2 separate regions of the Homo sapiens genome follow, and region 1 is linked to region 2. The links come from fine-mapping of genetic effects on gene expression. A gene starts in region 2. The other region holds a variant in brackets. All regions are shown on one strand. Distances are from middle to middle.

Region 1 (15,083 bases), 110 kb before region 2:
GTGCTGCGGAGCAGGGGGTGGCGCTCGTTGGGGAGGCTGGGGCGCGCAGGAGCCCACGGTGGCAGGGGGAGGCTCAGGCATGGCGGGCTGCCGGTCCCCAGCCCTGCCCTGCGGGGAGGCAGCTAAGGCCCCGTGAGAAATTGAGCACAGCAGCTGCTGGCCCAGGTGCTAAGCTCCTCACTGCCAGGGGCTTGCGGCCAGCCGGCTGCTTGGAGTGTGGGCCTGCGGAGCCCACACCCACCCAGAACCCTCACTGGCCGGCAAGCGCTGCGCGCAGCCCCAGTTCTCACCGGCACCTCTCACTCCACACCTGCCTGCAAGCTGAGGGAGCCAGCTCCGGCCTTGGCCAGCCCAGAGAGGGTCTCCCACAGTGCAGCAGCAGGCTGAAGGGCTCCTCAAGCACCGCCAGAGTGGGCGCCAAGGCCGAGGAGGTGCCCAGAGTGAGCGAGGGCTGCGAGGGCTGCCAGCATGCTGTCACCTCTCACTATGAACATTTCATGTGCAGGTTTTTGTGTGGATATATTGTTAAACTCATTTAGGTAAATATGATCACTGGATCATATGGCAAGACTGTTTAGCTTTGAAAAAGACTACCCAATTGTCTTGCAAAGTGGCTTTTCCATTTTGCATCCCCACCAGCAATAAATAGAAATTCTTGTTGCTTCACATTCTTGCCATCATTTGATGTTGTCAATGTTTTGGATTCTAGCCATTCTAATAGGTATGTAATGGTATCTCATTTTTGTTTTAATTTGCAATTTCCTGATTACATATGATGCTGAACATCTTTTCATATGTCTATTTGCCATCCATATTTCTTTTTTGTTGAGGAGTTTGTTCAGATCTTTTGCCCACTTTTCTTTTTTTTCTTTTTTTGAAACGGCGTTTCACTCTTGTTGCCCAGACTGGAGTGCAATGGCATGATCTCGGCTCACTGCAACCTCCACCTCCCAGGTTCAAGCAATTCTCCTGCCTCAGCCTCCTGAGTAGCTGGGATTACAGGCTCCTGCCACCACGCCCAGCTAATTTTTATATTTTTAGTCGACACAGGGTTTAACCATGTTGGCCAGACTGGTCTGGAACTCCCAACCTCAGGTGATCCACCCACCTCAGCCTCCCAAAGTGCTGGGATTACAGGCATGAGCCACCATGCCCGGCCTTGCCCACTTTTTAACTGGGGTATTTTCTTATTATTAAGTTATCAGAATTCTTTGTATATGTTGGATGTAGTCCTTTGTCAAATATGTGTCTGGCAGGTTTTCTTCCAGTCTCTATGGCTTCTCTTTTCTTTCATTTTCTTGTTTTTTATTTTTTTTTATTTTTTGAGTCTTTCTCTGTAGCCCAGGCTGGAGTGCAGTGGAGTGATCTCAGCTTACTGCAACCTCCACCTCCCGGGTTCAAGCGATTCTCCTGCCTCAGCCTTCCGAGTAGCTGGGACTGCAGGTGCACACCAACATGCCCAGCTAATTTTTTTATTTTCAGTAGAGACAGGGTTTCACCATGTTGGCCAGGCTGGTCTCAAACTCCTGACCTCAGGTGATCCGCCTGCCTCAGCCTCCTAAAGTGCTGGGATTACAGGCATGAGCCACCATTCCCGGCCTCTTTTCATTTTCTTAACAGTATCTTTCACAGAGTAGAAGTTTATAATTTTAATGAAGTTGAATTTATCAATTTTTTTTGTTTCATGTATCATGCTTTTGGTATTATATATGAAAACTCATAGCCAAACCCAAGGTCAGCTAGATTTTCTCCTGTATTACCTTCTAGAAGTTTTGCAGTTTACATTTCAGTATATAACCCATTTTGAGTTAATATTTGTGACAGGGATGAGGTCTGTGTCTAGATTCACTTTTTTACATATGGATATTCGTTGTTCCAGCACCATTGCCTTTGTTTCTTTGTCAAGGATCAGTTGACTCTATTTATGTGGATCTATTTCTGGGCTCTTTATTTGGTTTCATTGATTCATTTGTCTGTTTCTTCACCAATACCACACTGTCTTAATTACTATCATTTTATAGTAAGTCTTTTTTTTTTTTTGAGATGGAGTTTTGCTCCTGTTGGCCAGGCTGGAGTGCAATGTCACGATCTCAGCTCACTGCAACCTCTGCCTCCTGGGTTCAAGCGATTCTCCTGCCTCAGCCTCCCAGGTAGCTGGGATTACAGGTGCCCACCACCACACCTGGCAATTTTTGTATTTTTAGTAGAGACGGGGTTTTACCACATTTGCCAGGGTGGTCTTGAACTCCTGACCTCAGGTGATCCACCCACCCGCCTCGGCCTCCCAAAGTGCTGGGATTACAGGTGTGAGCCACCACGCCTAGCCTAGTAAGTCTTAAGGTCAGGTAGTGTCAGTTTTCCACCTTTGTTCTTTTTTAATATTGTGTTGGATATTCTGGATCTTTTGCCTCTCCACATAAACTTTGGAATCAATTTGTCGATATCCATACAGTAATTTGCTGGGATTTCTTTATTGCAATTGCATTGAATCTATAGATCAAGTTGGGAAGAACTGACATCTTAACAATATTCATTCTTCCTATTCATGTGCATGAGATAACTATTTGTTTAGTTCTTGATTTTATCAGAGTTTTATAGTTTATAGTCTTTTCCCAGAGTTTTATATTTCTCCTAATATAGATCTTACACATATTTTGTAAGATTTATACCTAAGTATTTCAATGTTTGTGTTAATATAAATGGCATTGCATTTTTAACTTGAGCTTTCCATTGCTTATTGCTAGTATGTGGGAAAACATTTGACTTCTGTGTATTAACCTTACTTCTTGCAACCTTGCTGCAATCACTTATAAGTTCCAGGAGTTTTTTTGTTCTTTTTTTTTTTAATAGATTCTTTGAGATTTTCTGCATAGACAATCAGTCATCTGCAACCAAGGCAATTTTATTTCTTCCTTTCCAAAATATATATCTTTTATTTCCTTTTCTTGGCTTATTCCATTAGGTAGAACTTCTAGTATGATGTTGAAAGAGAGTAGAGAGAAGGGACATCTTGTCATGTTCCCAGTCTTAGGGGTAAAGCGTGTAGTTTCTCACTGCTAAGTATGGTGGTAGCTGTATGTTTTTTGTAGATGTTCTTAATCAAATTGAAGAAGTTCCCCTCTATTCCTAGTTTACTTAGAGCTTTTATCATGAATGAGCATTGGATTTTGTCAAATGCTTTTTCTGTGTCTACTAATATGATTGTGTGACTTTTCTCCTTTAGCCTGTTGATGTGATAGGTTTATGTTAATTGATTTTCTAATGTTAAACCAGCCTTGCATACCTAAAGTAACTCCTATTTGGTCATGTGGTATAATTTTTCAAATACATCATTGGATTCAATTTGCTAATATTCTTGGAGAGGAAGTTTGTTTGTTTGGTTGGTTGGTTGTTTTTTTTTTTTTTT[C/TTC]TTTGAGACAGGATCTCGCTCTTTTCCCCGGTCTGGAGTGCAGTGGTGCAATCATGGCTCACTGCAGTGAGAGGAAGATCTGAGAATTACCTCCCCTCCTTTCACTTGACTGGCCCATCAAACTCTTTCTTTGCTGCAAAACTCGCTGTTTTTAGTGCATTGGTTTTCTGAACAGCAGGCAAGATGAACCCGTCAGGCTGTTACTTGCTTCCAGCTGTCTCTTCTTCCTCTTCCCTCTCCTTCCCTCTCTCCCACCTCCTCACTCTACACCTTCTCCTCATGCTGCTTTGTTCATACTCTAGGTCTCAACTACCTGAGGCTCCAGCTCAGACTTCCCTTCTGAACCCCAGACCCACCCAGCATCTCAGCCAGCCAGCTGCCCACCCAGCATCTCAAAGTCCACCACCTTGTCTGCAGCGTGGAAAACTGCTCCTCTGTCAGGGCCTGCTGTCTCCCCAGTCACTCAAACCCAAACCGCCTAGGTTTCTCCCCTCTCCTTCTCTGCATAGTTGCCTTCAGTCCCTTCCATTTGGCAGCAATTCCTCTTCCCCCTCCTCCATCTCCACTGCTACAGTTTTGATTTAGGCCCACATGGCTTCCCAGAGACCCCCTCCTAGCTAGGCCCTTTGCCTCCAGCTCTGCAGAAGGCAAAGCTGATCCTGTGTGCACCCTCTGAACATCTCCAGCGCCTCAGGATAAAGTCCAGGCTCCTTAGCTGGGCAGATCAGACCCTTCTTCTGGTGCCTCCCCAAATGTGCCCTGCCCTCTGGCCATTCTGAACCTTTCATAGTTCCCCACACTCATCACATTCTCTGCACATGCTGTTCTGGCAGGAGAGCCCGTTGCCCCCCACTCAGGCACCGTCCCTTCCCCACCCAGGTGAATTTCTTCTGCATTCAGCTTCAAATTGACTGAGATGCCTGTCTCTCCTGCAGCTTCTCTCTCCCCAGACAGCCTCTCAGAGTGCTTAACACCTCTCATTCTCAAACCAGCTGAACGTTAGGCTCACCTGGGAAGCTTTAAAAATACAAAAATGTTAGCTGGGCGTAGTGGTGCATGCCTGTAGTCCCAGCTACTCGGGAGGCTGAGGCAGGAGAATCGCTTGAACCCAGGAGATGGAGGTTGCTGTGAGCCGAGATCGTGCCATTGCACTCCAGCCTGGGCAACGAGAGTGAAACTCCATCTCAAAAAAATAAAAATAAAAATAGACACCCTGGCCACAGCCCAGATAATTAATTTCAAATCTCCACTGGCCTCATGAATAGCACAGATTAGATACTAATACTCTGGGGGCCGGTCTGGACCACAGGTGTCCTCTCAGTGCAGGCATTACTGTCTATCCCAGAGGCTCCGTTGGGCCAAGAGCACCACTTTTCATACAGTGATAATGATAATTATTTCCATGCATTCTTCCACTTAATCTCACAAACTCCCTGTGAAGTTCGTAAGTATCAGAGTCCCATTTTACAAATGGGAAACGAAAGCAAAGAGGTTAAGTAATTTGCCTGGGGCACAGTGTACATTCAATGAGTACCAGTTCCTCAGTGACTTCAAGTGCAAATTGGGAGTAGAAAAGGAGAAAAGCTTTACAAGTTACTGTGTTCATTCATTCAGTGACAATTCTACAAATGACAGTTGAAGGCCTGTTCTGGGCAAGATGTTGAGATTTAGCAAATGAATAAGGTATTAGGACCCCTGCCCTTAAGAGGTCTCTTTGTAAAGGGAAGTAATGTAAATAAAATAATAGATAATTATAATACACTGAGGTTAAGTTTAGTGATCAAGGGGTGCCCTAGGGATTCTGGGAGTCCACAGAGTGCCCTGAGGGGAATCCTAGAGGCTAACTGGGAGTTAGTGGGAAGGTAAAGGGCTGGGATGGGGAGGCCTGGGAGGAAGGCCTCCCAGGTAGAGGAGTGGCTGAAGCCAGCCTCTGAGATGCCACTGGGCTTAATCCACAGCAGGAGCCACAAACCCAAAACATCTGCTGTGGCTGATGGGAAATAAAAGTGAATCCAGCAGGTTTAAGAGAAAGAACAACATTTATGTGCAGTGATAATGGGCAGCTGATGTGCCAGCTGCAGCATCTGGAGGTGGCAGGGACAGTGGTTTAATGGAAAGAACCTATTATGCACCAAAGGAACTCTCTGCATAGCAGCTGCTGTCCGTGTGGGACGATGGGCCCAGCATTGCCAGATCTGTAAACTTTTATAAAAGAAGCTGGTGTAAACTAAACATAAAATTCAGAGGCCCCCCATCCATCTGAATGGACTTCCTTCTCAGCCAGGGCACTCCAAAGTTAACCTGAAAGACCAGTTCAGGCCTTGATGGGAAGCAAGGGTTGGACACGCCTCATTATACCCTCCTCCCTTTTGGAATTCAGGAAAAGTTGACCAACATTTAACATCAACACAGACCTTAAGTCTGATAAGAAACATTTACAATCTATTCTCTCTGAAGCCTGCTACCTGGAGGCTTCATTTGCATGATCAAAACTTTTATCTCTTTTATTCTAACCCAGATATTCCTTTCTATTTATAGTAACTCTTTTAACCAATTACCAATCAGAAAAATTTTAAATCTACTTATCACCTGGAAGCTCCCCCCTCCCAACCTTGGAGTTGTCCTGCTTTTCTGGACCAAATCGGTATATATCTTAAATGTATTTGATTGATGTCTCAGGTCTGCCTGAAATGTATAAAACCAAGCTGTGCCCTGACCACCTTGGGCACGTGGTCTCAGGATCTCCTGAGGGCTGTGTCACAGGCCATGATCACTCACATTTGGCTCAGAATAAATCTCTTCAGACTGGGTGCAGTGGCTCACACCTGTGATCCCAGCACTTTGGGAGGCTGAGGTGGGTGGATCACTTGAGATCAGGAGTTCAAGACCAGCCTGGCCAACATGGTGAAACCATGTCTCTACAAAAACATACAAAAATTATCTGGGTGTGGTGGTGCATGCCTGTAGTCCCAGCAACTCAGAAGGCTGAGGCAGGAGAATTGCTTGAGCCCAGGAGGCAGAGGTTGCAGTGAGCCAAGATTGTGCCACTGCGCTCCAGCCTGGGTGACAGAGCGAGACTTCATCTAAAAAAAAAAAAAAAAAAAAGTACATCTCTTCAAATATTTTACAGAGTTTGACTGTTTTTGTTGACACTGGAAATCTGATATTGAAACTACAATTCTTTGAATGTTGGCAACAAATTCAAATCCTAACATAGTGTTCTGTAAGAGCCAAACAAAAATGTCTGTGGGATGTGTTAAACTAACTGTAGCCTAAAGCTGCCTTCTTATATATTCTAAGTTCAGCCTAAAGGTTTCTCTGTACGTAGTAAACTGTAACCTGACTAGGAATTTAAACAGACTGCAATCTACTCTTGTACCAGTCACAGAGTTTCAGCCAATCACAGGCAGCCAGCTATTCAAATTGTATTCAAAAAAGGCAAACAGCCAGCTGTAATCAGTCTAGCTGTTTCTGTACCTCACTTGTGCTTTCTGTTCATCACTTTCCTTTTTCTGTTCATAAATCTTTTTCGACTAGGTGGCAGCCCTGGAGTCACTCTGAATCTGTTCTGGTTCTGGGGGCTGCTAGATTTGTGAATCATTCTTTGCTCAGTTGAATTCTGTTAAATTTGATTTGTTTAAAGTTTTTCTTTTTTTATTTTGGAGACAGGGTCTGACTGTCACCCAGGTTAGAGTGCAGTGGCGCGATCACAGCTCATTGTAGTCTCAACCTCCTGGGCTCAAGCTGTGCTTCCACCTTGGCCTTCCAAAGTGCTGGGATTACAGGTGTGAGCCATCATGCCTGGCCTAACGTTTATCTTTTAACAAAGGATATAGCCTTTGGGCCAGCTATTATACTCACATGTATTGTTTATTACAATGAAAGAATACGGGTCAAAATCAGCAAAGAGACACATAGGGCAGAGTCCAGGAGACACCAGGTGCAAGCTTCCAGTTGTCTTCTCCCAGTGGAGTCATGTTGACAGTACTTACTTCTCCCAGAAACAATTCGTGGCAACTTACATGGAGTACTGCCAGCCAGGGAAGCTCCCCTGAGTCTTGGTGTCCAGGGTTTTTATTAGGAGATGGTTACGTAGGTACAGTTGACCTTAGTCACTCGATCTCCAGCCCCCTCCAGCCTACCCTGCACCTGGCAATGAATCACATTGTTAATTAACATGGACTGGAATGGCCCAAGGTCCCCAGGTGAAGAAAAACACTCTCATCAGGAAGGATGGTCCAAGGGCTCAGAGATTCTCTCTTAGGAGCGGGTCAAAGGCCAAACATGTTTTTTGGAATGTGCGGGTGTGCACAATACAGGTTTTCAGAGTTAATTCTTTATAGTTCCTCTTACTGGGCAGAGCTGCCTGGTAAGGAATTTCAACATAACACCAGCTTCTGCTTTTGTTTGACCTTTGCCAAACCCTGGGCTCAGCCCACAGCACATTAAAACCAGCTGGGCAGCAGTTAAACCATCCCATGCTTGGTCTCCACTCCAGACTAATTTAAATCAGATTCTCTAGGGGTGGGCCTGGTTATCAGCATTTTTAGATTGTATCCTGGGGATTTGGTATTGAAGCAAGTTTAAGAGTAACTGGGTACAGGCTCTGGGACCACCCCTGTGTGTGAGATGGAGATAAGTATATTAAGAAGGTACAGATAGAGCAGTTGAAGCTGTTTGGGTAGGTAGAGTATTCCTCCTGGCGGGTCAGAAAAGGACCATGGTATTCATGCTGGGTGTAGGAGGACCAGCAAGATTTAAGCCTTGGGGGGAGAAGGAGGTATAGGAACAGAGGAGCAAGTCAACACAACTAGCTAGAAGTTAGCATTATGAAAGGGAAAACAGGCTAGAAGGACACAGAGGCCAAATCCAAAGCGCTTAATGCCATTGGACTTGGCTTTGTGGCTAAGGGGCATCTGCTGAAGCTTTTTGCACAGGAGTCTGTCAGGCTCAGAGCTGTGGTTTAGAGAAACTTGTCCCTCAGCAAATGTTATTCATTTGTTCAGCAAGTATTCATTCCATGCCTGCCATATACCAGGCCCTGCTACAGGCACTGAGGATACAGCAATGAACAACACAGTGCCTGCCATTGTGAAGCTGGTGGGGAGGGAGAGAGGCAGTCAACAAGTAAACAAATCAAAATATAATGTGTCAGATGACTCTCAGTGCCATGGAGGAAGACAAAACAGGGCAAGGGCATGGGGAGCGAGGGCAGGGATGCCTTCTACAATAGGATATGAGGAGACCTCTGTGATAAGGTGACATTTGAGAGGAAGTAGGTAAGGTAGATGTCTGGGGGAAGGACATTCCTGGAGAGGTAACAGCAAGTGCAGATACCCCAAGGTGGTTATGAGCCTGGTATCAGTGGGAATGGAGACATGGGGGCAGATTTTAGGACATTTATGGAAAATAAACAAGATTTATGATTAATTGGATGATAGGTAGATGATGTGGCTTGAGGTTGGTTTAAGGCAGGGATGCTTACCACTGGCTACACTTTAAAATCGTGAGGGGAGCATTTAATAATTCCAGTGTCTGTGCTCTATTATTTCATTTATGTGAAGTTCAAACAGACAAAGTATCAAGAATGTACAAGAAACTGATCATTCAGTAACAGTGAGTGATTGTATTGTGACTGTAAATTGTATTGTCTAATACAATTTAAAAATGGGCAAAAAATGTGAATAGACACATCACAAAAGAAGATATACACATGGTCAACAAGCACATGAAAAGATGCTCAACATAACTAGTCAACAGAGAAATACAAATTAAAAACACATTGAGATACCATTTTATTTTTATTTTATTTTAATTAATTAATTTATTTATATTTTATTTATTTATTTATTTTGAGACAGAGTCTTGCTCTGTCACCCAGGTTGGAATGCAATGGCGCAATCTTGGCTCACTGCAACCTCGGCCAGGCTGGAGTGCCATGGCGCAATCTTGGCTCACTGCAACCTCGCCCAGGCTGGAGTGCCATGGCGCAATCTTGGCTCACTGCAACCTCGCCCAGGCTGGAGTGCAATGGCTCAATCTTGACTCACTGCAACCTCTGCCTCCCAGGTTCAAGTGATTCTCCTGCCTTAGCCTCCTGAGTAACTGGGATTACAGGCCTGTGTCACCACACCCAGCTAATTTTTGTATTTTTAGTAGAGATGGGGTTTCTCCATTTTGGCCAGACTTGTCTCAAACTTCTGAACTCCGGTGATCCACCCACCTCAGCCTCCCAAAGTGTTGGGATTACAGGCATGAGCCACTGTGCCCTGCCTATTTATTTATTTATTTATTTATTTATTTATTTATTTATTTAGAGACAAGAATTTTGCTCTTGTTGCCCAGGCTGGAGTGCAATGGCATGATCTCAGCTCACTGCAACCTCTGCCTCCTGGGTTCAAGCAATTCTCCTGACTCAACCTCCCGAGTAGCAGGGATTACAGGCACATGTCACCACGCCTGGCTAATTTTGTATTTTTAGTAGAGATGGGGTTTCATCATGTTGGTCAGGCTAGTCTCGAATTCCTGACCTCAGTTTATCCACCCACCTCGGCCTCCTAGAGGGATGGGATTACAGGGATGAGCCACCATGCCCGGCTGAGATACCATTTTACATACTAATGAGAAAGTCTAAAATTTAGACTGACTAGCCTAAATGCTGACGAGGATGGCGCAACTGGGACTCCCATTGCTAGTAAGAATGTAAAATGGTACAACCACTCTGGCAAACAGTTTAGCAGTTTCTTATGAAGTTAAACATAAATTACCATATAAGCCAGAATTTTCACTTCTATGTATTTACCCAAGAGAAATAAAAACATACATTCACACAAATACCTTCTTATACATGAATGTTCATAACGGCTTTATTCATAATAGCCAAAACTGGAAACAGCTCAGATGTCCAATAACAAGTGAATGTATAATCAAATTCTTGTTTATTTAAACAAGGTAATATTACTCAGTAATAAAAACGAATGAGCTTATAATGTGTGCAATGACATTGATGAATCTCAAAAAGGTAGTGCTGAGCAAAAAAGAAGCCAGACACAAAAGGCTAACGACTGTATGATTCTAGTTATATGAAATTCCAGAAAAGGCAAAACTGTAGTGAACAAAAGCAGACCAGAGTTTGCCTGGGATTGGGATTGGGATTGGCTGGAAATTGACTGCAAAAGGGCACAAAGGAGGATTTTGGGGTGATGAAAATGTTCTTTCACGATGGTGGAGGTGGTTTACACAAGTGAATATATTTGTCAAAACTCATTTGTACACATAAAATTTGTGTTTTTTTTTTTTTTGGAGACAGGGTCTCACTGTTACTCACAATGGAATATAGTGGCACAATCATGGCTCACTGCAGCCTCCACTTCCTGGGCTCAAGCGATCTTGCCACCTCAGCCTCCTAAGTAGCTGGGACTACAGGCATGCACCACCACAACCAATTTTTTGTAGAGATGGGGTTTTGCCATGTTATACAGGCTGGTCTCAAACTCCTGGTCTCAAGCAGTCTACTCACCTTGGCCTCCCAAAGTGCTGTGATTGCAAGGCATGAGCCACTGCACCCAACCTGGTGGATTTTATTGTACATAAATTATTCTTTGATAGACTGACTAAAAAGAAACCAGACAAAATTAATCTTAGGTGGTAGCGGTCAGAATAATGGTTACCTTGGGGGATGATTCACTGGAAGGGGCACAAAGTAGCCTGCTCAGGGACCGTAAGTGCCCTGTACCTTGATCTGGGTGGTCACCACAGAGGTATATGTCTATGGAAAGATTCACTGAGCCGTATGGTCAGGATTTATGTACTTTATTGCATGTGAATTATACCTGAATTTAAAAAGAAAAAGAAGAAATGATGGCCAAGCCCTGTTCCTAGAAACTGGGATTTAGCTGGTCTGGAAATGGTCCCAGGCATTGTTATTTAGGAGTTCCTAGGGGATTTCAATGTTCAACCAGAGTTGAGAACCATTGATTTAAGGGACAGGCAAGAGTCAAGTGTTGAGTCTGAGTGATGGAGACTATTCTGATGCCATGTGCAATCTGGTGGCATGTTCAGGAACTGGGGAGGATGCTCAGTTCAACCTTGGGTTTCTAGTGATCTGAGGTGAGGGTGGAGCTTCCAAGCTTCTGCGTGGACATACATGCAACGCGAAGCAGTAAACTCCAAGGCTGGGGCTGCAGACAGGGCGGACTGTGTGCTGAGCGCTCGGTGTGGAGTTTGCTTCAGCTGAGGCTTCATTTCTGATGCCTAGGGCAGGATGGCAGCAGATGAAAGCTCACAGAACACTTTGCGGCTCCAGTTCAAGGCAATGCAGGAGATGCAGCACAAACGGTTACAGAAGCAGATGGAGAAAAAGAGGGAAAAAGAACTGAGCCTCAAAAGCAGAGCTGACGACCAAGAGGAGCCCTTGGAGGTTTCAGATGGCCTCAGCCTTCTCCACGCAGGGGAGCCAAACTCGAAAAATAGCTTTGAGAAGAGGTAAATGCAAGTTTGAAATCTCTCAGGGGTGTGTGTGTGTGTGTGTGTGTGTGTGTGTGTGTACCACCGGAGCTATAGCAAAACTTGTAAAATGCAGCTAAAGTGATAGAAGGAAGCTTAGAGCCTTAATTATAGCTGCATTTAACAAGTTTTGATACAGCTTCTGTGGTCAATCCATTCTAAATGCTTTATAATACATATTATGATTTCTTCTTAACCCATAAATAATTTAGGAGTATAGGGTGTTTTTCTAGTTCCAAGCATATGATGAGTTTTGGGTTTTCTTGTTTTATTTCTATTTTTTATTATTGATTTCTAAAACAGTCACTTGCCATTAGAGAAAATAGTCTGTATAATGTTATTATTTAGAATTTGCTAAGATTCCCTTTATAACCTATAATACTTTTTTTTAAGAGACAGAGTCTTGTACTGTCACCCGGGCTGGAATGCAGGATGATAGCTCACTGCAGCCTCAAGCTCCTGGGTTCAAGCAATCCTTCCACCTCAGCTTCTAGAGTCACTGGGATTACACGTGTACACCACCATGCCTGGCTAATTTTGTTTTCTTTTATTTTTAGAGACAGGGTCTTTCTTTGTTGCCTAGGCTAGTCACAAACTCCTGCCTTGGCTTCCCAAAGTGCTGGGATTAGAGGCATGAGCCACCACACCCAGCCCTGTAATATATTTTTATGCATGTTCCATGGATGCTTAAAAGAAATATGAATTATGAGTGGGTTTTTTTATAACTCCCTATTTAAGCCAGCTAATGAACGACATTGAAATCTTTCTTCTTTCACGTCAGTGTGTCTGCATCTGCGTGTCCATCTGTCCACCTAGGCAGTGGAGGCCTGACCCCTGCCCACCAGGGCCTTTGCCTTGGAGGAGCATTAATTCTGCCTTTGCCTTGTAGGGTGCTTGAAGATGAGATTGAACACCTTCGAAATGAGCTCAGGGAAACGGTGGACGAGAACGGGCGATTGTATAAGCTGCTGAAGGAAAGGGACTTTGAAATCAAACACCTCAAAAAGAAAATAGAAGAGGACAGATTTGCCTTCACAGGTAGCTCCACCATTGTTGTGATAGTCCTTGCCCTGCAGTCCAGGGACTTCAGATAGGGCAGACAGCAGGTTCCAGAGAGCAGATTCCCAAGAGAGTGCCAAGGGTCAGTTGTGATCAAGCTTGTCCAGAGGAGTCCTGGAAGTGAGGGAGAGGGTAGAGGAAAAGAGCAGCCCCAGGGAGGCCAGCCCACCAGAAAATGGGAGCACAGGGAGCAATGAGGGATTTAAAAATGGGCCAGAAGGGCCAGCAGGCAAGCATCATAGGCAATGTTGGTGATCCAGCTGGGACTCATGACAAGGGTTTGCCATCATGCTCGCAGCATGTAAAGGGGCTGGCAGGATCCATTTCTCCTTGGTGCACTGGCTCACATGTTATGTTGTGAACATAAAAAAGGCCCAGCAGCCTGCAGTGAGCTATGATCACCCCCACTGCACTGAACCCTGGGCAACAGAGATCCTGTCTTGAAAAAAAAAAAAGCCCCAGTAGAGCCAGGTATGAACTCTACAGCACCTGCTGTTGCTGCTCCAGAAAGGTAGATGAGTCACCTGTTCTAGGAGGATATCATGGGACCCAACCACCAACAAGGTGTGGGCTGGGTCTTGGCCCTGTAAGTCTGGGCTAGACCTTGGCTGTGTTGGTGGAGACCTCATGGTGGCCCCATGAGTCTGGTGAGGACCTTGGCTTTGCAGGTCTGGGAATGACCTTTGATCATGGTTGTGAGCTGGACATTGGCTCTGTGGTTATGAGTTTGACTTTTGCCCTGCTGATGTAGTGAGGACTTTGGACTTGATTGTCCTGTGTTATGTATATACCCATTGAGCAATTCGCAGATGGCTAATAAATAAGAAAGTATTATAGATGTCACCAATCACGGAGAGCAACAGGGCTGACTCAGCATCTACCAGACTATTGTCCTTGCCTTTGAGAGTAAATGCGTTTGAGGATAGGTACGTTCATAGGACCAAAGCTCTGGTCAGTCAATGCTGAATTACAAAGCAAGGGGAATTTGGTATCCTAAAGACTCATGGTAGCCTAATGCACCTCCCTCCATTCTTTGGCCTTTTCTGTCTGAAACAAAAAACACAAAGCCTGGCTAAGGAAGCCTACACTCAGCCTGGTTACAGATTCAGCTGTGGAAGGGGCCACTTGCACTTTTGCAAGGCTGTAGAGAAGCTGATGGGCTCCAGGGGGAGCAGGAGATACATCTCCACCCAGCAGACCTGGGAAGCAGATCTGGGGTTACTCCCTCTTCCCCAGCCCCTCTCATTGTTAACTGTCTCTTGCAAGCTTTGCCAAAGCCCAGACTTGGTTGTGGCCTCATCTGACTGCCAGCCCTAAGCGTCCCTGAAAACCACTTAAATCCAGTCTTCACTCTGAAGTCACCATTTCTGATTTTCATTCTCACGTTTTGGAGAGAAAATCTGACAAGCCCATTTATGTTTTTAATTTTTTTCTTTTTGAGACAGAGTCTTGCTCTGTTGCCCAGATTAGAGTGCAGTGGCACGATCTTGGCTCACCACAACCTCCACTTCCTGGGTTCAAGTGATTCTCCTGCCTCAGCCTCCTGAGTAGCTGGGATTACAGGTGTGTGCCACCACACCCAGCTAATTTTTGTATTTTTAGTAGAGACAGGGTTTCACCATGTTGGCTAGTCTGGTCTCGAACTGCTGACCTTGTGATCTGCCCGCCTCGGACTCCCAAAGTCCTGGGATTACAGGTGTGAGCCACCGCGACTGGCCTCCATTTATGTTTTTAAACTGAGCTGCAAGTGACAGGCTACTGAGAGTTGATAGATCGGTTTCTTTTGGCTGGATTTTTAGTGATTCCTTTGGGTTTTGTTTGCTTACTATATTTTTCGTACAGTTTTTTAGTGATCTAGTGATTACAAAATATTTATTACCTTTTCATAGTCTACGTAGAACTAATATTTTACCACTTCAAATGGAATGTAGAAACTTTACCACCATTCAGGTCCCTTTACCTCTCCCTTTCTATTGCAGTTTTTATATGTATTATATCTATATATATTGAAAATCCCATCAGTCAATGTTATACTTTTTGCTCAACTATTATATGTATTTTAAAGAACCCAAAGGGAAAACTATTCTATTTAGCCAGATAGTTAGCATTTCTG
Region 2 (15,585 bases):
CCCACCCTGAGAAGTGAGGCTGGCACAAACAGACTCAGGCTGGCTCAAGGCCCAGCAGCCAGCTCAGCTCCCCTGCTTACCCCAGCAGCCTCTGCTCTTCCCAAATTTCTCACCCAATCCCTTTTTCCCAGGCCCATGGGAGCTGGCATCCCCAAAGAGCTGAAAGTGGGGGCTGCCTCCTGCTGGGCTGCCCCCTCCTCCATACAGCACTTTTGTGGGAAGTGGAGGATGGCATCCCTCTGGGCAAACCCCTCCTCCCATCGTGTGCTCACTTGCTGCAGTGCACAACCTGTGAAACTATACACAGTGGCCCTGCTGGCCTTCCTACAGCCCCCGTGTTTGTTAAAACCCCGTCTGACTCATCCCACCCAGAGTGGCCTGTCTTCTGGCCTTGTCTGCTCAGACAACTCTCCACTCTCATCCTCCCAAGTCCATGTGTCCCCTTTGTCCCTCTGGCCAAGGGTACTGTTTGTTCCAATCCTCTGCACATCTCTTCATGCGCCCAACTCTATCCACCTCTCCCAGGAAGCTCGGCTTGATGTTACCCCTGAGCTCTAACCACCCTGAGAACTGGGCCTGGGCCAGCCTGTCTGGGGGCTAAGTCTGGTCTCCGCAGACCACCTAGGTAATGCAGTCAGCAAGACACTAGGTGCCCAGAGCCCAGTTATGGCCTAGCCCCACCTGGACAGCCTCTGCCCTGCCCCCAGCCACGTGAGGCCCACCTGGATGTTGCGCTCGCAGTCTGTCTGCCTGTGCAGCAGCAGCTCGCTCTCCAGCAGGAAGCGCTTGCCGCACTGGTCGCAGATCTGCATGCGGCTGTGGGTCACATTCATGTGTTTCTCCAGGTACCAGCGGTTGTTGAAAACTCGTGGGCACTTCTGGCATGGATGGTGCTGCTTCTCCTCCAGCTTCACCTTGGCCCCCAGCCCATCAGTGGCTGGCGGCCCTCGGGCCGATGCAGAGGCCACTCCAGGGGGTGGCTTTGGCCTCTTCCCACCCCGCCGCCCAGCTTCTTCAGGTTCAGGGGTACCCCGGCGCCGGGCGTTCTCCCGGGACCGTGTGGCCATGTGACTGTGGGGAGGGGGGTCTGCCCGGCTGCTTCGGCTTCCCCGTGGCCCCTGCTTGCCCCCAGCCTCCCCCTCCTCCCCCTCCTCCTCCTCAGAGCTCTCTTGATCCTGCTCACTAGGCCCTTCCTCCTCTTCCTCCTCCTCTTCCTCTTCCTGCTCACTGTGCCCGTCCTCCTCCTCTTCTTCCTCTTCTCCCTGACTGCCACCCTCTTCCTCCTCCTCCTCCTCCCGTCCACTGCCACCACCTTCCTCTTCCTCTTCTTCCTCCTCCTCCTCCTCGTCGTCCTCCTCCTCCTCGTCCGAGTGTCTCTGCAGCCCGTCCTCCCGGCCCAGAACCACGGTGGCTGGGCTTGGCCCGGCACCTGGCTTCCCCTCTGGCCCCGTGGACACGTGCAGTGTCTGGTTGTTGAGGTTCACCTCCACGATGATCTGGGATTGCTCCCTGCGGCTGTAGGTGCCAGAACCCCCAAGCTCTTCCTCCAACTCTTCTCCACCCTCCAGCTTGCACAAGCTGGCTGGGGGCCCACCGGCCTCCTCGACACCACCCTCCTTCTCCTCCTTAAAGAAGGGCTGGGCTGGCCCAATGGTGGCAGGCACTGTGCCACCAGCAGTCCCTGCCCCGTCCTCAACACGCACCGAGTAAGGGTCAGGGCCCTCGCGGGCATAGATCTTGGGCAGGCCTGGGGTGTCGGCCTCCTGCTTGATGTCACAGTAGTAGGGCGGCGCAGCTGGAGTGCAGCTGGCAGCCGGCTGGGCCAGGGCCACAGTGCCCGGACCTGGTGGGCCTAGAGAGCGGGCGTCCAGCAGCTCTTGGCAGGACGCAGCGATGTCAGCCATCTGCAGCAATGAGGCGGCGCTGAGCACCTCGTGGACGTTGGCCGCGTTGACCAGCAGCTTGGACGTATAGATGAAGTTGAGGATCTGCTGCAGGCCACCAGGTGCCAGTGCCTCCAGGGACAGCTCCACACGCTGCAGCTGCTTGTTCTGGGTGAAGAGTGAGTGGAAGAACTGGCTGTAGGCGGCTAGCACACCCTTGTGTGCCGGAAAGACGCTGCGCTGGGGCACCAGCACCAAGTCCACGTCGCAGAGGTCAGGCTGGAAGAGGCGCTGCTCGTTCAGGCGGCCCATCAAGCAGGCAAAGTGCAGCGCCACGTCCTCCACCAGCGAGAACTCAGCCGCCGGGGAGTCAGTTGTCTTCTCAACCAGCAACTGCGGGGACAGAGGGCACAGGAGTGGGTCAAGGCCAGTGGGCCCCTGCCCGCCCTTCCCCCAGCACCACTCCCAGCATTGCCAGCCATCCAGGAGGCAGCCCATCACTCGTGGCTCCACTTTACAGCAACAGAGCCGAAACTAGCAAGGAAGGGATTCAAGCCTGAGTGAGCTGCCTCAGAGCTCAGGCTCCACTCGTGACCCTCTGAGGCTGAAGATCAGGTCCTGTCACTTTCTGGGCCTCTGGGTCATCTCCTGGGAAATGGGAAAAGTCATCCCAGGAAGGGAAAGGGAAGGAAAGGGGATGAAAGAGAGACCACAGTGACCAACCATCCAGGTTTGCCAGGGACCTGGGCATTTTCTGGGGTGCAGGGCTTTCAGTGCTAGAACCAGGACCATCGCAGGCACACCGGGACCAGGTGGTCACCCCAGGAGGGCCACAGGCATTCCTTCAGCATTTCCTCAGCCCCGTGGATTCTCTCCACATATTCACTCACACATACCAATAAAAGCAAGCTTGCCCAGCCCCAAACACCTCAAGAACAGAAGCCGGGCTCACTGCTCACTGCCCAGTCTCTGGCTACAGAATCCAAGGGGTAGCACCTGAGGGAACCCCTCATCGCAACAGCCATGTGGCTGCTGCAGAAGTTGAAACCTGTGAAGAAATCCAGGCTCAGGGCCTATACCTTCTCCCCACTCTGGTCCTGCTGCACTGCCTGGTGAGGTCTCCTCATCACAGCCAGGGCTTGGGCCAGGCTGCCCCCAACCCCTGCCTGCAGCCTCAGGCCTAGCCCCCAGCAGCTCTCTCTCACTCAGGGGCTCTGCAGGGGTGGAAGGACACAGCTGTGGAACCTGCCTACCATGCTTGCAGGCAGGAGGCCCCCAAGGCCTGCCCCAGATCCTTTTCCCGGTAGACCCCCAGACCCCAGGTCAGGTACGGTCCATGTCCACAGGCTCTGGGAAAGCCCTGCCTTAGAGGCCACACCATCTGGGGCTTCCAGAGCCCTAGCGGAGGCCCTCAATGTCTGATGGGTCAGACTATCAGGCCTGTGGGCCACATCCAGCACCTGTGAATTGCCTGGAATAGAAGCCAACTCAGTCACCCCGGCTCTACCACAGCAGCCTCCCCAAAAGGTGGGCAGCACAGACAGGCAGCCTGCCCAGTCCCTGCACGAGAACCATCACACAGTGATGTGCAGATGTTGTTAATATCCACCAACCACCAGCCCAGCTGGACCAGCACCACTGGTTCCAAGTTCTGGCTCTCCTCAGGGCCTGCCCAACCAGGTCTGAGCCTCCTGCATTCGGGAGGTACCTTGCCACAATATTTTGATGGCCACAAAACCATCAGCTCCATAGCTGTCAGTGCCTCCCTGGGGACCCTGGGATGAATCCTGGCCCCATCCATCCACAGCCTACCGCCCCCCTTCCCCATGCCAGGCCTTCCATCGCCAGGAGAGCAGTGGGTAGGCTGGGATTGGGCAGGGGTGGTGGTGGTTGAGCTCCACTTCTCAGTCACCTGAATGAGAAACCTACCGTGGGCCTCAGCAGGAGCCTCCCTGAGCCACCAGGGGCCACCTGTCTCCAGGCCTGCCCTGGACCCTGCCCCCTACACCCAGCAGCCAGGGCAGCAGCCATCCTGTGTTCCCTCACATCCCAGTCTGGCCAGGCCCCTGGCCAAGGCTACCATCTTCCTTGAGTTCTCCACTACACCCCTTACCCCAGCCAAGAAGCCATCCATCTCCCTCTGTCCCAGGCTGTCCAGGCCTGGCCAATCTAACTGGGACGTGGCACCAAGCCCCTCCCATCTCCCTCCTCTGACTCATTCTGATTCATCTTCTGGGACCAACCCCTACTACACAGATGGAGAAACCGAGGCTCAGAATGAGAGGGTTCCACAGTCCAGAGCCCCTGGACTCCCAGCTCCGCTAAGACCACCCCTTCCTTGCTAGACCCCACATGGCTGGATTTCTGAGCCTTTAATGACTTAAAAAGCGAGAACATCCCGCCACCTGGAGACCAGCCGTGCTTCCCCACACTCACCACTATCCCCTCTACCTGCTCCCTCCTCCCTAGAGCCACTGCACCTGCAGGTCAGTGAAGGATCAGGGTACAACTTGGGTTGCAACAGGGGCTCCTTAGGGCCTCCAGGGGCCAAAGACTGGCAGGAGAAGTGGCTTGGATAAGGGTTTGCTGAAGCCAGGCCTGTTGGGGGAAGTCCACCCCAGGCAACAGAGCCCCAGATCTCTCTGCTCTCCCTTTATGGAATGCCCTCCACTGCCCACCTGTGCCCACCTGCCACAGGGAAAGGGCAACCTTCCCATGTGCACTTTGGCCTCTAGGCCAAATGAGGCCTGACTTTGGCCCTCTGGCCTCTCAGCAGGAAAGGAGGGGAGTGCTTTCTCAAACACTCCATTGCTAAGGTAGTACTCTCAGCCAAGGCAGCACCATCCTTGGCCCTTGGGGGGCCCTAAACCTCATGACCTGATTGGACTCTCTTGACTGGGCACAGAGATGCTGCCCGAGTCCACAATTGGCAGCCCCTCAGCAGGGTTCAGCCACCCCCATGTCTGGCCCCTCCCACACAATGCCCACCAGCTGTGCTGGCCTCCACAGCCAGATGTGCTGGTTCCCGGAAGCAATGCGTGCCCCTCCCCATCCGGCTGTGCCAGCTGCAGTCCAGGTCACTCCAGCCTAGCTAAGATGCAGGACCAGGGAGGTGGTCAGGCACTCTGGTTGCCAGGGGGTTTCATGCCCTCAAACCCTTGCCCCAAGTCAGGCTGGGGATTGGCCAGGTGCCAGACATCTCTCCAGGCTGCTCACCCAAGTCAGAGCCTTCTACACCTGAGGGGTACCTTGCCTCACTGATGAGAAGCCTCATCTCTCTACCCTGCCTCAGAGCCTCCCTGGAAGGCCCCATGATGAAACCTGGGGAGTCCATCTGCGCCCCCCTCCCATGTCAATTCTTTCTATGCTGGGCAGCAGTGGGGGGGCCCAGACTGAGCAAGGGGGCACAGGCTCATGACCTCTAGGCTCCTCCTTTTGGTGAGGGAGTGTCCATGCCAGCCTCCTCTGTGCACTTACCTCCCCTCTTTCCCTTGGAAATAGACCCAGAGAGGGCGGGGGATCTGCCCAAGGTCACACAGGAGTTGGTACGGGAGCTCTGGGTGTCCTCCCACACCCCCTTGGCCCGGGTCATCCCGAATCCCCAGGCAGGGCGGCTCCAGCGCCCACGTGGCCCAAGGCCCAGGCGGGAATCCGACTCCCTCTTCCCCCCATTACCCAGCCCGAGGGCGGCGCCGTCCGGGCGCAGGGGAGCGCCCCCCTTCGCCGGTGCCTAGCAAGACCTCAGCCTCGCGCGCCGGCGCCCCCACCACAGGAATTTAACCCCCTCCCCACCGAGAGCAGCGCCACAGCGCCGCATTCCCGGCCCGCGGGACCCAGCAGATGGAGCCGGGAGACCGGGGGAGGGGGGAAGATCCCTCCAGCCCCTCCACCCGGGCCCGCGGGCCGTGTGCCTGGGAGGTCAGAGCTGGCAGGTGGGCGGATAAGCGGGGGGACAGGCAGGGCCCTGCGTACCATGGTGCCGTGGCGCTGGGGGCTCACAGGGCCCCGCGGGATCGCGCTGCCCCCGGCGGCCAGGCCAGGGCCGCTCCATGAAGCGCCGCGCTGGGGGCCGCCCCCGCGCAGGGCCCCGCGACCATGGCCCCCGGGGGCGCGGCCAGGCAGGCGGAGGCGCAGGGCCGCGGCGAGTCCAGCGCCAAGCAGCTGCGGCCCCAGAGCCTCGGGCGCGGCGGGCGGGGGGCGCGGGGCGCCGATTGGAGCCCGCGCGTCAGCTGGGGCCGCCGTCTGGACGCTTAAAGGGCCAGGCCGCCTGCGTGCCGGCGGGGGGCGCGGACACGCGTGGTGTGCGCGGTCCCCGTGCAGCCCGCCCTGCCGCAGGCTGCCCTCCACCCCCAGCCCCAGCTCCAGCCCCCAGCCCGTCCCCACTGCTCATATCCGAGCAGATAGACCCCGGCCCCACCCTCCCGTGCTGAGCCTCCTTTCTGCCGGGAAGTTCGTCCGGGAGTCAAACATCGCTGCCCTCCGGTTGCGCCACGGAGGGGGAGCCAGGATAGGAAGCTGCCGTGAAATCAGGAAGCTGAGCGCGCCGGGCCCCGGATCCGAACAGAAAAGGCTTCCACCCGCTCCCCTGAGGGATCCCACGCTGAGGGACTGAACCCCGCACCCCAGCCGCGCTCACCACCCCCACCCTCTCGCCTGGGCTGCTCTGACCTGGGGGTGAGTCTGGGGTCCCCAACTGGTCCAGTCCCCCATCCCTATCCCAGGGCGGCGCAGGGCTCATTTTGCTCTGTGCCTCCAGGACTTGGCTCCAGTGGACCCATACCTACCTGGCGGCCTCATGCTGCATAGGGCCACCCAGGGCAGGAGATTTAAATCCCAGGACTACAACCGCAGCGATCAAATCATCTAAGGTGACTGGCCCAGGGCCAGGAGACAGAGGGACCAGAGGAGTAGGGACCAGAGGCCCAGGCCCCACTGTGCCCCTCTAGCCGTGTGACCTGACCACTGCTGAGTGGCCCCCTTGCTCAGCCTCTGCTGGGGAGATGCAGCCAGGCTTGCGGAATGCTGCTCTGGCATGGACACCCGTGGGGGCAGGGGGCTGGCTCTGTTGGCAGGAGGCTGTAAAGGAAGGCTGCCAGGCTGAGCAGGCAGCAGGGTGGGGACCACGGGGCACTAGACCTGGCAAGGTCTGGATGGTGACTGGGCCACCATTGTAGAGGAGAGGCCTCTGTGGACATCCCCTCCTCCTACCCCAAGCTCACTACTGCCCATCCTGGGTCACTCTCATGTTGCCCCCATCCTGATATTCCACACCCCTCCCCACATATGTGCGCTTGTGTTTACATACAAGTCCATGTCCAGCTGCAGCAGTATCTCCTGGGTATGTTGTCCTACTCACGAGTGGGCAGGAACTCTGGCGCTGGCTCAGGGTGACTTGGTTCTAGGTGCCAGAGGAGAAATGGAGGAGAGACCAGGGTATTAGGCAGGTGCTGTGAAACAGCCTGATGGTCTGTCCTGTAAGATTGCAAGGGCCTCCTCCCCCACCCCCACTCTCTGCCAGAATACGTAGGGCCTCAGGATAAGGCTATCCCAGAGCTAGGGAGAAAATGTCTCAGGGGCCAAACCTGGGGCATCTGGAAGCCCCTGGCAGCTGCTGCAGACATCCTGTACCTGCATGGGTGCACAGACAGCTGGCCCAGCTCCCAGAGGCCCCAGGTTAAGGCCAGGCCAGAGCAGCTTACATGCTTCTGACCAGCTAGCCCGCTGAGGGCTGCCTTCTGCCTCTTCCTCCCCAGCCCACTTCCTCATCTGACTCACAGTGGATCCTAGCACCGGCCCAGGAGTTAGTTAGGGAGGGGCTGTGTGCCCATTGGTTGGATAAGGACTCTGAGGCTCAGAGCGGGACAAATCACTTAGGCATCAGCATCAGGAGCCAGGGGAAGGGGAGGTGGGGAGAAGGGACCCCTCCACGGGCTGGAAGAAGCCTGGCAGAGAGAGCTGCATGGGACATTGCTAGGCCCACTGCCAAGCCAAAGCTTGACAGAGGGTGTGGCCAGCGTGACTGAGGTAGTGATGCTGGCCCTATGGGGCCTTGCTGGGGCCTTAGCTCCAGCAGTCAAGCTGCAGAAAGGGCTGGAGGTTGGGTGAGAAGGGAGGGGACAGGTGGTGGGGAGGCACTCAGTCTCCCTGAAGGCCTCGGCTGTTCCCCTCTTGCTTCTCTGGCCTGCAGCTCATCAGCTGGGGAGTCCCAGGGCAGAGCCTGAGCTCTGTGAGCAGCTGTGGGCACCTGGCAACACTGGACCTGGCAGGAAGGAGTGGTTTGAAGAGCTGTCTGGTGGGCCCACAGGGCTGCTCAGAGCTGAGGCTTGAACTTGAACATTAACTAGAGCAATGAGGGAGTGAAAGGGCTTTCCAGACAGAAAGCCTGCAAAGGCCAGGAGGTGGAGACAATTTAGCATCTGCAGGGAACTAGAGGGGATTTGGTGTAGTGGAGTCAAGATTCCTATCGATCAGGAGTTGTCTGGTTGGTGGGAGTGAACAGGTGGAGCTAGGCAGAGGCAGAATTTCTCTCTTGGTCCTGATGAGGGGCATGCAGTAGGAGCTTCACTTCAGGGAGGTCAAGGCAGGCTTTCTGGAGGGAGGGACTGAGTTATTGGGGAGTTGACTCCTGGGCCAGAAATGCATGCCCCAGGGGTGAGTCAGGAGTCTGGAGACGCTCACCCAGCAAGGGCAGAGCTTAGTGATCCTTCACATATTTGGGATTGGGTCCTGACAAGGTCAGCAAAGCTATGCCCCTGCCTCTAGAAGACAGCTCATGGGTTTTCTCTCAATTTCCCTAAGTATCTACCCTCAGTGCTGGAGTGTCCCCAGGCTTAGTTGGGGAAACCAGATTCAACCCCACTGAAGTTAGAAAGAACAGCCCAGGTTGTGGGTATGCGTATGTGTGTGGGAACAATGCAGGACTGAGTCAGCCCGGAGGGCATGGAGCTGTGTGTAGCTGAGCCTGGGGAAGAGGGAGAGCAGAGTGGGCAATGCCAGAAAAATACAGGCAATGCAACTCAACTCGCACAGCATGTGGCCAGTGGGCTGGCAGGGAAGTTCAAAGCTACCCACTAGGCGCTGATCCGAAGCCCAAAGTTCTAGTAGGGCGGGAAAACATGAATCCCCAGGGTGTGGGGTGGGTTAAGGGTGGAGTTTACACCTGAATTCTGCCTCCACTGAACCCAGCACTAATAGGCTACAGCTGCCCTGGGTTGGGGGCCTCATGCAAACCGGTAGGTTGCCTGGTTCCCTCACAGCATAAACATCATGGCTTTGGCATTTCACGTCTCTCTTGCAGCTTCTAGGATCCTCTCCTGCCCTGTTGGTTCTGGGGGCCTTGGGCCTCTCCCTAGTGAGTGAACCTGGCTCCACACATGAACCCTCTGGGACTCCTTCACTTCTCCTAGAGTCACCACCTCAGGGGCCACCACCTCTGAACCACTGATGTATGCTTGGTTTTCTAAACGTTTAATACACCACAGTTCTAGGAGGAGGAATCCCTAGCATCCATTTTTCAGATGAGCTGAATTATAGAGGTCAAGCAAATTGTCCTCCTTCCAGTTACCCAACTGGGAAGTGGCAGAGTTGAACTTGAACCCAAGCAGCCTGGTTCTGGCCCAGAGACCTTAACGATTGTACCATAGCATAGTTGCTCATAGAAGTCCCCCTGCTTCTTCAAAATAAAACCAAATTAGGCTGGAGGCATTGAGGTCAGTGGGGACTCTTCTTAGGCTTTCTCTGGGAACCTGGCCTGATGGGAGATTTTAGTTGCTAGAGGTCCTAGGTGACCAGAGGCTGGTGAAGTGCCAGCCTATACACCCAACCCCTGTGGGCCAGGTCCACTGGGAGGCAGACTCGTCTGCAGGCTGGGAAGGGATGAGCACCCCTGGTTGTCTCTCATGTCTGAGTGTGCCAGTCATGTATACCCTCTTTCAGGGGTTTATGAGCCATAGGAGGCCCAGGATCAGGGCTCAAGATGCAGAATGCAGGTGTTTGTCCTGAGACCTCAGGTCACTCCATTTGTTGTTTCTCAGACAGGGTCTTGCTTTGTTGCCCAAGCTGGGCAGAGATGCAATCATGGCTCACTGTAGTCTCCACCTCCTAGGCTCAAGTGATCCTCCCACCTCAGCCCTCTGAGTAGCTGGGACTACAGGTGTGCATCAGCATGCCCAGCTGCTTTTTGTTCTGTTCTTGTCTTAATAGTCTTGCTATGTTGTCCAGACTGGTCTTGAACTCTTGGCCTCAAGCAATCCTCCTGCCTAGGCCTCCTAAAGCACTAGAAATATAGGTGGCCACTCCTTTTACCCTGATGTCCTCAAGGCTCTGGGCTGAAGAGATGCAACCCTCTCCAAGCTAGCCTGGGTTCTGCAGGCTGTGAAGCTCAGCTCAGTCTAGGGAGCTGGAGTTTGATGGGCTATAGTAAGTGGTGGGTCTGGGGTCTCCAAGAGGCAGCAGGCCTACCTGGGGCCTTCTGATTCACAGTGAGGAGTGGAGGCAGCAGCAAGGGAGCACTATCTCTACCTTGTACTGAAACTTTGAAAGAAAACAGACCACTAAAGCCTCCTAGCCCTGTGTGTATGTGGCCAGGGCAGGCTCTCCTTGCCTTGCACTTACCAGGCCCCGACAAGCTTCCCAGTCTGTCCTGAGATGAACAGGTGTTCTTTCAGGGTACCCAGCGTCCTCCCCTGACACCTCTGGACTCCTGAGGGGCCTTTACTGCATCAAAGAACTTCTCCCTGCTGTCTTCCCAGCTCATTCTACCACAAGGCCCTCATGGGCCTGCAGGCTCTTGCCTCACTGTGGGGAACAGCAGACTTGATTCTCTGTTCCAAAAACCAGAGTTCTCCGGAAATCTGAACCCAGTCCGTTTCACCTTGTGAGGCATGGCTTCCACATCCTTTCACCTGACCACATTAGTTTGCAACACTCCTTCAAGGCTCAGCATTTGCCTTGAAAAACTGAGTAGAGCCTCTTTTTTTTTTTCCAGTGGAGACGGGATTTCACCATGTTGGCCAGGCTGGTCTCAAACTCCTGACCTCAAGTGATCCACCCGCCTTGGCCTCCCAAAGTGCTGGGATTACAGGCGTGAGCCACCATGCCTGGCCACCTCCCGTCTCTTCTAAACAGTGATGCCCAGTTAGTGTCCATAATCTCTTGCAAGAGGGGCATTTTCCTTGAATTACCTTCCCGCCTATTTAATGCCCAGCTAATTCAGAAGAGTCAAGACCAAAGTCCTTGGCACATTTTCCCCCCAATACTGCCCAACTATCAAGTTTACCACTATCAGAACTTGATCCTGCATTTTCTTTACATTTTAAAGGAATGCATCCAGATTTGACAAATTTCAGGAGTTGCCCAACTAAGGAGTCCACTGTTAACTCAGTTTAAAAACTGAGTATCTGCAGTGAGAAGTTAACTACAATAAGTTATGTTGTATTCACTAAGAAAATAGACATTCCTTTCAGTTCTGAGGAGACAAAAGTTAATTGTACTTCCCCTGCAAATTCTTATGTGTATACTAAAAATATCACCATGAATGTTTTCTCTGGGAGTGAGTGACATGTGCTGCACTGCCTAGTGCGCTGCCGTTAGGGAGGGAAATGTAGAGGCTGTAGGTAAATGGACTGTCTCTAGGTAGAAACTCACACATGGGATGTGACATATTCCTCCCTCAGCAAAGACATCTTTATGCAGGTCATTTTAACTAGATGACAACAAAGTGTAGAGGAAATCTGGATTTTCCAGGGGAGGAAGACCAAACATCATTAATGCTTACCTGTGTAGGTTAAAATCTCTGCCTGACATTCTCTCTAGCTCCACCTCCTACACCCACCACTAACACTCAGCTAGGAGAAGAAAAGGAGCTGCCAAAGGAGATGAGGTGTCTTCACTGGCTGGGTCAGCAGAAAGATAAAACATGAACAGACTCAGACTTAGACTAAGTATATATTTTAATTTCTACAAGGTCCCCTTTCAAGTTTTAGGGAAATTTAACTGAAGTGTATACAAATTAGACATTGCTAATATGTACAAAAGTATTTTATACAGTTTTTGAACGATACTAGCTATTTGCAATAAACAGGATGTTACAAAAACAGTCCAATAATGCATTTCCTATTAAGAAGCACAATACACAACATAATTCAATTTTATTAAAAAATAACTTCAAAATGTAGAACAATCCCCTTTAGGAAGAAAAGCTATTTCTGTAGTTCACTCTGTCAGTAAACACACAAGTTGAACGCTGCAGCAGAGGGCTGTCCTTTTCCATGGAGAAAAGAAATGAGGCTTCTAGGGCCTATCTTTTCTGGGTAAAAATTCCACCTACAGCTGAGATGGGCAGTTATTGCCTGTGGTAGGCAGAATTTGAAAATGCCCCTCCCACTTTCAATGAGCTAATCTCCAGAACCCGTGAATATGATGAGATGAGACAGTACTCCTGCAATTATGTTCTATCGCACAATCAACCTTAAAATATATCTGTGGGCTTGAGCTAATCATATGCCCCTAAAACAGGAGGACGGGAGAGAGATATGAAGCATGAGAAAGAGCAGGAAGGCTGGTTTGAAGCTGGAGGGGACCACATAAGAAGGAATGCAGGCAGCCTTGAGGTGAGAGAGGGGCCTCCAGCTGAGAGCCAGCAAAGAACTGAATTCCGCCAACAACCTGAATGAACTTAGAAGCAGATTCTTCCCCAGAGCCTCCATGAAGGAATGTTGTCCTGCCAACCCTTATTTCAGCCTTTAAGACCCTGAGCAGAGAATCCAGCCACACTGTGCCAGACTCATGAGCTACAGAACTGCTATGGGTATTGTTTTTTAAACTGCTAAATTTGGGGTAATTTGTCACACAGCAATAGAAAACTAATACACTGCCCAAGGGTAACTTTTCTTAACCTAATTACATTTGGCAGTTTCTGCTTGGGTTCTGAATGCATTTTTTTCCTGCTGACTAGTAGTAATATTCTCCTTTGCAGGCAACCTTTGGAAACCTTTAATATAAATCATACTGTTTTGTATTCAGTATCCAGTATTGTTTGTTTGGCCTAAGTCCTGTTTTCTAATGTACTTTCTGTCTATTGACCTGGCAAACAACTGACCACCTTACCCTGTTTTCATACCTTCTTTGGGTGATAGTTTTAATACATTCAAGGGCACCCTCCCTCCACCAAGGGTTGTCAGCTCCCTCCAACTGAGGGCTCTTTTCCACTTCCCAAATACACCAGACAAGGCCTGTGGTAGGGTGGTGCTGAGCTCTACATCAGGCAACCAATATGAATTTCTTCTGCATAACTGGATTAAACTGGCACTAAGGTGATTAAGTACACTTGGGGAACAAATTCAAAGTAAAGATTAAAAAAAAAAACCACACACACACACACACACACACACACACACACACTAGTTTTTACAGGTCCAATTATTTTTGGAGGAACCACCCAAAGCCATGAAAATATGTAATTTATGCTATACCCTCTATCCCTCTTCCCCTGTCTCTTGCACCTGGGTCAGGTCACGCAAGGCTTTGAGTCAGCTGCAGGTCACAGTGGAAATAGGAAAAACATGCTGGTTACAACAGTTCAGCTGCTGTTGTGGTAATATCCTGTACTTGAAAGACTTGAAAGGAAAGCCCTGCAAAATGTCTCCAGGATGGTGGCAGTTAGATTTTTGATGTTACTTTTGAAGTCCATTCTTCACTCTTCCAGAGGCACACACACACAGTAGACTTGAGTGGCCAATATCTCTTACTGCCAATCCTGCCTGCTCCAGGGGACCCCAACCCACATCTGTACTTGAGAGAAGCCCCCCAAATAGTCAAAGTGAAGACAGCTCAGAATAAACCATTTTTGGTGCCAGTGATTTTGTCTGAATTTCATTTTTATGGTATTTTAATATATGATATATAAGAGTAATGCTTAAAGACGCACCAAAAATTACCAAGCACCAAAGCATGAAGTAGAATTGTTTTTATAACCTAAACTTCTGATCGGTATTGATTAAAAAGAACATAAAATAGTAAGTCCTCAGAGACAGTGCAGGTATTTATAGTTAAGGCTGATTGATTCTTCCTAACCTTGCCCACAAGCCTGAAGTAATACAGACTGTGTGGGATGTATGATGACCACTTTCCTAATCCTGTGAAGTATCAAAGAAGTTAGGAATGAATTAAGAACCCCAGAGCCACTGCCTTATACTCCTGGTTACCAACAGTATCAATTCTGGGTGGTTTGTTTTTAGAGCACATATGTACAAGACTCTATGTAATCAGTATATAAATATTTGGCCGCCTTTAACAGTTCTCCTTCACAGTTCTATGCTTGGCAGCATATATGCTAAAACTGGAAAAACAGGCAAAAAGAATCTGTATTCTAAGGGATACGTAAGATAGAGTGAAATAGACTTAAAATAATATTGCAAATTATACATAGATAAATTTCACGATTTCTTGATTCAAGAAAATGAAATTCATTTCCATAGTTGGCTACTGTAAAATGTGGCATAAAAATATTTTTAGGAGACATATCTGTATTTTAAATTCTTCTCCCCACATGTAAATGAACCAGTAACAATTAAGAAGTGTCTATTTTTGAAATTCACCTCTGATATTGAAATAGAACAACAGACTGTCATTACATTTCTTAAGCTAAGTTGCCAGATATTTACAAATAAGATATAATTTGTATCCGGACGTTTTCAACTGTATCTGCTGCTCTCACTGGGGCTCCGGTGATGAGAGTAACTTCGGTCACTTTCACTGTCAGAGCCATAAGATCTACAACTCCTGTAATAACAAAACAAAATATATAAAAATCTTGTAACTGTAAAATCTTTGAATTCCTCTTATAGCTTGTTTTTTATATGAGTGGCTTGAAAACATCAATAGTGTTTTCAAGCCACTCATATAACTGATGCACTATTGATGCAGCATAACACAGAGGTAGGGTACTGACTATGGCAACACCATGGACTTTTCTTTTTCTTTTTGAGATGGAGTTTCACTCTTTTTGCCCAGGTTGGAGTGCAACGGCATGCTCTCAACTCACTGCAACCTCCACCTCCCGGGTTCAAGTGATTCTCCTGCCTCAGCCTCCCTAGTAGCTGCAATTACAGGTGCCCGCCACCACGCCCAGCTAATTTTTTTTATTTAGTAGAGACGGGGTTTCACTATGTTGGCCAGGCTGGTCTTCAACTCCTGACCTCAGACGATCCACCTGCCTCAGCCTCCCAAAGTGCTGGGATTACAGGCGTGAGCCACCGTGCCCGACTCACACTATGGACTTTTTGAAGCTGTTTTAAATGACAAGTTGTAGTAATGTCAAGATTAAGATAAAATAAAGAAACATCACATCTTAGGAAATTTGTGTGAAATTCATTCATGCAAATGCTGGGACCACAAAAACAAAAAACCAATGAGCAGAATAGTTTCCCCATATTACCCAAAATGAGTATCAATATTTGAATAGATTACCTGAGAAAAGTAATGGGGAAAAGGTGCACAAATAGTTTCACTCAAGGAATGGAAACCAAAATGGGGTCCAATGAGGGGTGGGGGTGGCCCTGGGCATGAACAGGACCACTGGGATATTGAGTCAAGAGGACCTGGTCATGGGTCCCATTCAGTTATTTTGAAAAACATTCACTGTGAGCCAGGCATTTTGCAAGATGCTGGGAACACACACACACACACACAAAGACACAAAACC

The links. PIP is the estimated chance that this variant, and not a neighbour inherited with it, causes the effect.
Region 1: its variant is fine-mapped to the expression of ZBTB47 in whole blood (INTERVAL, PIP above 0.99).

Annotation. Positions count from the first base shown.
Region 1 is chr3:42,754,932-42,770,014 of GRCh38, reverse strand. CCDC13 (coiled-coil domain containing 13) reads left to right here. Exons shown (of 16, transcript NM_144719.4): 2 at 11,664-11,890; 3 at 12,801-12,949. The coding sequence starts at 11,670. Among named protein-coding and RNA genes, the nearest start is that of CCDC13-AS2, 8.1 kb to the left of the region's middle. The variant C/TTC (reference allele first, on the strand shown) is at 3,407.
Region 2 is chr3:42,644,966-42,660,550 of GRCh38, reverse strand. ZBTB47 (zinc finger and BTB domain containing 47) reads right to left here and starts at 6,854. Exons shown (of 6, transcript NM_145166.4): 1 at 6,668-6,854; 2 at 723-2,276. The coding sequence starts at 2,195. ZBTB47-AS1 (ZBTB47 and NKTR antisense RNA 1) reads left to right here and starts at 6,163. Exons shown (of 3, transcript NR_125400.1): 1 at 6,163-6,557. It overlaps NKTR (natural killer cell triggering receptor), which reads right to left. Exons shown (of 17, transcript NM_005385.4): 17 at 11,816-14,663. The coding sequence ends at 14,576. RefSeq lists enhancers at 1-307, 308-1,218, 3,880-4,174, 6,239-6,880 and silencers at 5,754-5,833, 5,874-6,233.